Regions from separate parts of the Homo sapiens genome. Here region 2 is linked to region 1. A link means that fine-mapping ties the variant in region 1 to the expression of a gene that starts in the linked region. Tissue or cell type: cerebellum. Region 1 holds a variant in brackets; the other region holds the start of a gene. All regions are shown on one strand. Distances are between the middles of the regions.

Region 1 (5,471 bases):
GACTTTGCTTTGCGGGATAAGGAGAATGGGCACCCTGGGGAAGAGCGAAAGATTTCCTACTGTTACAACCCGTGTCTTATAACACTTGAAGTGAATGTGGTGTCTGAGTTACAACACTACTTCCCCTCACAAACAGTTAAAAGCAGAGGGTCACAAACATAGGCTCAACCAGAAAAAAAGATTCTCATTTCATCTGTAGTTTTGTATCAAGGATTGTGTTGGAATTTGCCTCCATATTAAACTGCTGTTCAAGGGTTACCAACTCAAATGGTTATGGGGTGAAGCCGGTGTCTCAGGCATGGGCCTGTCGTTGGGACCTGTGGCAAACCAAAGCCACTACTTGCCCTATACAAAGGGGGCAACAGCTGTCAGCCCCAGCAGCTTCCACTAAAAGGTGCAAGCTCTGTATTGCCCGACCTGACTTTTCAGAGAGAAGTTTTAAGTCCGAATTGTTTTGTGAGACCTCCAGATTTTTAAATACTGAGAATGAATTCCATTAAAAAGATCACAACAACAAACACCCACCATACAGTCCAAGCAAAATGCTGTGAGAGCAACCTTCATGAGGAGTGCAAAGTCACAGTTTCAATTTCACTTCTTCTAAAGAGATTTCCAAGTGTTCTGTTTCTTAAGTGATTCTGTTTGCATTTTAAAATACAACTGTATCTCCTAGAGGGAAAACAAGAATTTGCTCTAAGAAGTCACTGCCTCCTCAGCCCCTTTGTGAGTAAGCACTTTATGCTTCCCCAGAGGTGACTAAACTCTGATCATTGCCAATGGGCAGGCACTCCCCAAATGTCCAAGGACAACAAAGATACCCAGAGTGTCTTTCATAGCTACCAATGATTAAATAGCAAGTATTGCATTCCTGGGCATTGCTAACTAGTGAAGTATACCAGATGGAAATGTCTTCGAAGCTGTCCCTTTAAAACTCGAGCAAGCTACCAGGCAAACTCCGCCTCCAGGGAGGTTCCTTATTAAATAGGAGCCAACTGGCTGGGTCGGGGCTCAATACCCCAAGCAATACCTGCAACTGAGGATTCTTCCCGGGGAGACCGCAGCCCATCGGCATGGCTCAAGAGTTTGTGAACTGCAAAATCCAGCCTGGGAAGGTGGTTGTGTTCATCAAGCCCACCTGCCCGTACTGCAGGAGGGCCCAAGAGATCCTCAGTCAATTGCCCATCAAACAAGGGCTTCTGGAATTTGTCGATATCACAGCCACCAACCACACTAACGAGATTCAAGATTATTTGCAACAGCTCACGGGAGCAAGAACGGTGAGTTTCATTTTAAACGGCTAGGGAAAGGCTCCCGGATTGCCTTTTCTTGTCAGAGCTGTGCCTTTCTTTAGGATAAGGCTGCGGCTCCGTACTTCAAGGCGTCCAGAGGGCTGTGCGGGGCGGGGGGTGTGGGGGAGGGCGCCTTAGAGAGGATCTCGGTCACTTGAATGAGCGGCGGCACTGCAGCCAAAGGTCTTCACGGGGCAGAAGAGGGAGTACAGCTGATGTCTGCTGTGCGGCAGGGTAAGTGGGACCAGCAGCTTGCCGGTGAGTCCCTGGGGAATTATCTAGAGTCTTTGTTTTAAGCACTGCCAGGAAATGACAGTTTTCAGTTGGCAGGGCTGGAGGTGGAAGCTGGGGTGGAGGGCCGGGTGTGATGTGTTTGTTATTTAACATGAGATTCATGTTCTTCATTCTTTTCTCTAGGCTTTCTTTTTCTAATTTGCTCATTCTTCCTTATCTAATTCCTCCCACTGGAAAAATCTAATGTACCGTTATCTGCCCCTTGTTCTAAATTAATTATGGATGTTTCCAGGCCCCACATTGTAGGGAATCATAGCCTGGAGTTCTGGCCTGGCTCTTATAATGGCTGGCTGTGTGATCCTGGGCAAGTCACCACCCCAGTAGTCCTCAAAGATCCCAGCTGCAAGACCAGATTAGGTGACCTCAGAGTCCCATTTGCTACGAATAGACTGTGGGACCCTCTAAAAATTGCTCTCCTCCATCCGAAAGACTTCCCTCTCTTCAGCATCCTTGGCTTTGCGTCCTGGGCTTCAGGAGGGATGCCAGCCACATCACCTGTATCAGTTCTGCTGTGAGGTGGGATGAGAAATGTCCCACCAGCTCAGCTAAGTTCTCTTTTACGATGCACGAATTCTACAGCACAGTGTTAGGCCAAGCACATATCCTATTTCAGTTTTAGTTTGACTTACAAGGTTGTCTCTGGGTTCTGAGTATAAAGCATTGGAGGTTGTTTCTCTCCCCTTCTCTCTAATAAGAAGTCAGCATTTTGGTGCAGAAAGGGGGCTTAGTGTGTTATCCTACTGCTGTGTGCTGAGGTCCTGGAGTATACACAATGACGAGAGAAGCTCTTGCTGCCTAGTGGGACCACCAGCTGCATAGGATGCCCAGGCCCTGAGAGGTGTAAAGGGCAGTGCAAACACTACTACGGGCCCCACTGTGGCTGCCACCCTGAGGACCTTTTAGCCATTGGTTCCCAAACTTTGCTGCACATTAGGATCACCTAGAGAGCTTTTAAAACAATCCTTATGCCCAAATTATGCCCCTCAATAACTAAATCACAATGTCAGAGGTGGGAGCCAAGCATTAGTTTTGTTTGTTCGTTTGTTTTGAGACAGTTTCATTCTTGTCACCCAGGCTGGAGTGCAATGGTGCAATCTTGGCTCACTGCAACCTCTGCCTCCTGGGTTCTCCTCAACCTCCCAAGTAGCTGGGATTACAGGCGCCCACCACCATGCCCAGCTAATTTTTGTATTTTTAGTAGAGACGGGGTTTCACCATGTTGGCCAGGCTGGTGTCGAACTCCTGACCTCAGGCGATCCACCTACCTCGGCCTCCCAAAGTGCTGGGATTAAACGGGTGAGCCACCACACCTGGGATTTTTATTTGGAAAAATCCCTTGGGGATTCCAATGTGCAACACAATTGGGATTATTGTTCTCAGCCCAACAGCATCTATTTTCCAGGAGGTAAAGCAAACCTCTTCATGTGTTCATTTAACAATTGCTTTTTTTTTTTTTTTGAGATGGAATTTCGCTCTTGTCGCCCAGGCTGGAGTGCAGTGGTGTGATTTTGGCTTACTGCAACCTCCACCGCCCA[G/C]GTTCAAGCAATCAAGTAGCTGGAATTACGGGCACCTGCCACCACACCTAGCTAATTTTTGTATTTTTATTAGAGATGGGGTTTCACCATGCTGGCCAACCTGGTCTCGAACTCCTGACCTCAGGTGATCCACCCACCTCAGCCTCCCAAAGTGCAGGTGTGAGCTACCACACCTGGTCAACAATTGCTTTTTCATTTCTTTGTAGAACAACAATATTTCTTGTAGTAATCTTTTAAGGTTTTTTTTTTTTTTTTTTTTTTTAAGAGACAGAGTCTTGCTCTGTCACCCAGGCTAGAGTGCAGTGGTGCAATGATAGCTGACTGCAGCCTCGAACTCCTGGGCTTAAGTGACCCTCCCACCTCAGCCTCCCGTGGCTGGGACTACAGGCATGAGCCATCATACCCAGCTAATTTTTTAAGTTTTTGTACAGATGGGGGTCTTGTTATGTTACCCAGGCTGGTCTTGAACTCCTGGCCTCAAGCTATCCTCCCACCTCAGCTTCCCAGAGTGCTGGGATTACAGATGTGATCCACCTCAACAAGCCTGTTTTTCATTTTTAGAAAAATGTTTTTCACAGATTCTTGAATTCTGAGTGCATTCCTCCTAGGGGAAGAACAAGCCTTTTAAAGCTGCATGTTTGATCCCCAACAGGGAAGTGTTTGTATTCAAAGGGTCTGAAAGCTCCCGAGGGTTTTTTTTTTTTTTTTTTTTTTTTTGAGACGGAGTCTCCCTCTGTGCCCAGGCTGGAGTGCAATGGCGCAATCTCAGCTCACTGCAAGCTCCACCTCCCGGGTTCACGCTATTCTCCTGTCTCAGCCTCTCGAGTAGCTGGGACTACAGGCGTCTGCCACCATGCCTGGCTAATTTTTTGTATGTTTAGTAGAGACGGGTTTTCACTGTGTTAGCCAGGATGGTCTCAATCTCCTGACCTCGTGATCCACCCGCCTCAGCCTCCCAAAGTGCTGGGATTACAGGCGTGAGCCACGGCGCCCGGCCTGATCCTGCAGTCTTAATTATTCTATAAAGTAGCTGTATCTAGTAGGTAATCAGCAGGACATGATTATGGAAAGTTAGTGGCTTCAATCAAGCCATGTACTTGGTAAAACCTGTTTTTGTTTTGCTATAGTCACAGCTCCTAAATTAGTGCCTTCATTTATTTCTCCTCTAATGCACTTTTCTTTACATAGATCTGAGTTTCTGAACTATATCATTTCCCTTCTCTCTGAAGAACTTCTTTGGGCATTTCTTGCAAGGTGATTCCATTGGTAACACATTCCCTCAAGTTTTGTTTACCTTAGAAAGTATTTCTCCTTCGCATTTGAATGATGATTTTACTGGATGCAACAAATATTTTTAAGCACCTACTATGTACCAGACACTTTTATGTACATTGGGGAAAAAATTCTGCCTTTTCTGCCATGAAAAAAACCCTTCTGCCTTTGTTGAACCTATATTCTAGTGGGGGAGACAAACAAATACAGTAATAAAACAGTATGTTGGGAGTTGGTAAGTGGCACGTGCTATGAGGAAAAGTAGGAAAGGTAGGGAGGAAGCATCAGGGTCCAGTTTTAAATGGAGCCATTGGGTCTCACTGAGAAGGGAACATTCGAGCAGATATCTATAGGAGCTGAGGGAGATGGGTGTACACAATTTACAGGTAGAGTGAATGCAAAGGTCCTGGGGTAGACGTTTGCCTGGCAGGTTTGTGGAATAGTAAGGAAGCCAGTATAGTTGCAGCACTGTGAGCCAGTAGGAGAGTTAGTGGAGGTGAGGTCTGAGAGCTAATAGGAGCTTGGAAGAACTGTGACTGGTACTCGGTGTGAGATGAGATGCCCCTGGTGGGTGCTGAGCAGACGAGTCACTTGATCTGACCCCATTTTGAAAGGGCCACTCTGGCAGCTGTGGGGAGAAGAGACAGTAGGGCAAAGGTGAAGGTTGAAGCTGGGAGACATTGGGAGGCTATAGTAGTTATTCAGGTGACAGATGAAGGTGGCTTATACCAGGGAGGTAGCCGAGGAGTGTTGAGAAATTGCTTTTGAGTAGTTGCATTTGTGTAACCCTAGCTAGCGTACAGGAGATGTTGCCTGGCTGAGGCTGGGGAAACCTAGTGCAGGAGAATAAGAACCACAGGATTACCAAACTCGTTTTGGGGTGGCAGTTCTTTCCTCTCCTTGACAGTAGCGGACTCTCAAGTTCCTCTAAAGAGGAGGCTGGGACGGGAAGGGACAGGAGGGGAAGCAGCACAGGGTATTTCCTCTTCTTTGCTCAACTTTATCAACAGTACTTCTTGCTTTGGTTTCACTGCCACAGCACCCCCGTGCCGTCTGTACAGCCTGCCATTCAGCTCCCGTT
Region 2 (4,000 bases), 140 kb after region 1:
CCAAATCCTTGATCTAAGGCCAACAACAATTCTTAAAGAAGTCTCACATGGCAGATAGGTTTTGAGGATTGGTAGGTAATACATGAAGTGAGGAGTATGACTTCATCTCTGTTGAATTTGAAGTAGGTTTGAGGGAAGGATCCAATTAGGAAGGTTGTTAGGGTTCTAGCCAGTTTGGTGCAAATCAAAATGCTGAAGCCCAGGTGAATCGGGCAAGCCCAGCATTGAGTTTTACCCAAGTTTTGCAAAATTTCCAAAACCAAAAGGTCAGTGCATATTTAATGAAACCTGCCACTTATTGGGTATTTAATGTTCATCAAGTATTGTTTCCTTTTTAAAAGGTAAGAGGCTTATAGAACTTATGTAATTTGCCCACGGCAAAGCCTGGTAAGTGATAGAATTGAAACTCAAACCCAGGTCTGACTGACCCCCAGATTTCTATATTTCTATCACTAAGTTTATACTGTCTATATGTGATTATGTAAAATGTTCATTTTCTTCAAAGCTGTGTGCAAAACAAAAGTTCTGTTCTTCTGTATTAAAGCCTTTTAAGTACAGATAAATCTGTACAGCTGTCATAAAAATTATTTGGAGATATTTTTAATTGTTTCCTAGTTTATTTTATAATTATGGGGTACTCTATTATGAACTCTAAAGAATAACATAATGAAGAATTAACAAGAAAAAAACAGACATTGTGGGTTCTTTTGTCTAAGTTTATTATCTGAAATAACATAAGATGCATAAGATTATTGGCATAAGAAGATAATTAAACACAAACCAAAATATTATAAGGTCATAATGTAAGTGCTGCAGGGTGAGATTTTCTTACTCCATCACCGTCTGTCATTTTTCACCACTCTACTTCTGGGGAGAGGGCTCTTAAGTAAGAAAAGACAAAAAGGACGTTGTTAGCAAACACAAAGAGTTGCTTATGCTTTAAGTGCAGTAAACATTAGCCTGAGAAATGCTTTTCCTCTAGATTTGTTAATTTTATAGGATGCCTAGGAGGGAGAGGACTGATGAAAAGAGAAGAAAATTGGGTAAAACCAGTTGGGCAATGACATTGGAATCAGTGGATAAAAAGAACTAGGGGATGGTGGAAGGGAGGAGAATGGAGAACAGGGAGGAAGACCAGAAAGAGAAGGATCTGCCAGGTGTTCATCTGCAGTGGACGCTGATGACCAACTATCTTGCTAGGACAGATAAAGTATTTCATTATCTCATAGACTCCCAGCGTGTGTATTCATCATTGTCTAGTATGATTTTCTTTGTACCGATGGATTGCACTTTCCAAATGTTAAGGGCATAGTTATCTTAACCATGAGAGTCATGAGAGGCAAGCAGGTTCTATTTTGGTTAGGAGAGGTGAATGTGGTATGGCGGAGGGTGTTCTAAGGCAGATTGTGGACTAAGAACACCATGAGAGCTGGGGATTTTCAGGCTTCCCATGCTAGAGGAATCCTGGGATGAAGATTTCTCTTTCCCAAACTGTTCCCATGAAGACACTTTCAGCAGCCGTGGCTTTATGCTTGCTGAAGAAAGTGGTCTAGCTGCAATTAAATATGAGGGCTTCAAATTAGAATGGGATTCAGGTTAACCAACTATTTCATTCACACTAAAATATAACTAGGCTGTCGGCCGGGCGTGGTGGCTCACATCTGTAATCCCAGCACTTTGGGAGGCCGAGGCAGGCGGATCATGAGGTCAGGAGATGGAGACCATCCTAGCTAACACGGTGAAACCCCGTCTCTACTAAAAATGCAAAAAGTTAGCCAGGCGTGGTGGTGGGTGTCTGTAGTCCCAGCTACTCGGGAGGCTGAGACAGGAGAATGGTGTGAACCCGGGAGGCTGAGGTTGCAGTGAGCCAAGATCGCGCCACTGCACTCCAGCCTGGGCAACAGGGCAAGACTCCATCTCAAAAAACAAACAAACAAACAAACTATATATATATAAAACTAGGCAGTCAATCAAGTCTGCATGGTATCAAGTTCTTCCCATATTTGATCGGGGGAACTAATGGTCATCTGACATGTGAGGGTACTAGGAGGGTAAAAGATGAAGAAAAGAGATTGAGATTATAAAGCAGAGAAACCAAAGACTTTACAGTTTTGCCCGAGTTTGACCTAGTGATCCTCATTGGTGAAGCAAAAACAATCTATTCAGAAGTCTTTCTGAATTCACTGCTGGTGTTTCTTTTCTATTTGGCATCATATATAAAGCATTTCTTTTAAAGCACATGCCATTTTTTTTCAAAGGGACCTTTTGTTCTCAGATGATCCATTATTTGTGGTATCACTGCAGAATTTGGGACAAATTTCAACTTATATCATAGAACTCCTTAGTGTACTTTATTATTCAATCCCCTCACTCCTTCCCTTATGCCTCCAAACACACTCCTCTTCCTCTCACTGCCAGAGTGATGTCAGAAGATTCTGTAGCAGGTTCTCGGAAGCCTATTGTACAGTAACAAAGAATTCCAGCAGTGAGCTGTGAGTTCTGTCCTTGCTGGCTTTCCCAAGTGGAAGGCTACCCTCATCTTTCACTAATGGCAGACTAGGACAAGCATTACCCAGGCCTGCAAGCTTGTTAAGGACTAGGAACCCAAGCAAGAACTCACCATGCCAATCAAACCTGTTGGGTGGATATGTGGGCAGGTGTTGAAGAACTTTTCTGGAAGAAGTATACACAATCTTGTTGTAAAGGGCGTATGGGTGTGGGAACAATTGGGAATAAGATCCCCTAGAGTTCCTTTACTTTCCGAGTCATCTAGGAATTTGATCAAGTGTTTCATGTTCTTTTGAAACATTTAGGGGATGTTTTCAAAGTTTTCTTTTTCCTAACCTCTTTTTGTCTTAGTCGAGGGGATCCAGAAAGCAATCATGGACCTTGTAGATGAGTTTAAAGATGAATTTCCCACCATCCTAAGATTATCACAGTCTAATCAGGTAATGTGATTTTATAACCTTTAAAAGGAATAGAAAAAATATATTCTATTTTTAGTATCATACCCATTATTTAATGCTTGATTTTGAGATCAGTGATCAAAACTTTAGAAAACACTAATTTTGCCTCAGAAAAACAAATTTCAAATATTACTCATTAAGAGGGGTCTTTGGGAAGCAGAGAGATTGTGGACCAAGAAGTGAGGTAGATTGAGAATTAAGTTTAAAGACATTAACTATGTCATTAGGGTAAACACCTGGCAGTCTCTCAACACTACAATTGCAATGTAAAATCAGAAAAATACCTAGATACACTTTAGCAAAAATCTATGTCAAATCAGTGCAAAACCTTGAGATAAATTGTAACAATGGAAAGATAAATACAACATGGATGTGTGTTTAATAAGGAAAGAAAACAGTAGTATCAATTTAAATAAGGTATACATGTATATTTTTTAAACCTCTGTTCCAAAAAGGATTTGAAACAGATAAAATATTGGGAGTGAAAGAGGAGGGAGGTATATATTTTGAAGAGACATAAAGTCAGGAAAAAGTAACAACTTGTTTAGGGAACACATGTAACCTAATTTACTCAAAGGCACACAGCTCTTAATGGAAAAATGTGGTTCGGTCATTTTGATCATAGTTGGAATAGAATATGCTGTGAAGGTACATGGTACAGGAACAATCCACTTATCCAGAAGTCAGACTCTTGACAATGTCAAACATGAGGTATATAACCAAAACCTGGCAGTTAACAAAAAGCACTCTGATTAACACAGTAATCACAAAGTATACATATTTCATTCCAAAGGAGGGATATTAGAGCTAACTTTAACCACGCCTGCAGACAACCAGCCATCAGACATTTAGTAAACACCTCACTATTGCTTGGGACTGGAGAGAGGAAATACAGAGATAAACACGACGTGATCCTTTCCGCTAATGAGCTTAATCTAATGGAGATAGAGTTGTAAAGGAGTAATTGCATTAGAATATGGTCAGTGTTACATCTCTGTATGTAATTTAGAGGAGTGAATGACTCTACTGAGGAA

Alleles and levels. Alleles are on the strand shown, and positions count from the first base shown. SD is a standard deviation of normalised expression in the study named.
With allele G in place of C in region 1, the expression in cerebellum of the gene that starts at base 2,485 in region 2 is higher (moderate effect, 0.44 SD a copy in GTEx).

The links. PIP is the estimated chance that this variant, and not a neighbour inherited with it, causes the effect.
Region 2: SPATA9 starts here. The variant in region 1 is fine-mapped to the expression of SPATA9 in cerebellum (GTEx, PIP 0.95).

The regions. Positions count from the first base shown.
Region 1 is chr5:95,818,262-95,823,732 of GRCh38, reverse strand. GLRX (glutaredoxin) reads left to right here and starts at 1,007. Exons shown (of 3, transcript NM_001118890.2): 1 at 1,007-1,277. The coding sequence starts at 1,071. RefSeq lists enhancers at 1-259, 490-579, 2,496-2,635. The variant G/C (reference allele first, on the strand shown) is at 3,119.
Region 2 is chr5:95,681,476-95,685,475 of GRCh38, reverse strand. SPATA9 (spermatogenesis associated 9) reads left to right here and starts at 2,485. Exons shown (of 5, transcript NM_031952.4): 1 at 2,485-2,682; 2 at 2,860-2,948. The coding sequence starts at 2,622. It overlaps LOC105379090 (a long non-coding RNA gene), which reads right to left. Exons shown (of 2, transcript XR_948588.3): 2 at 703-881.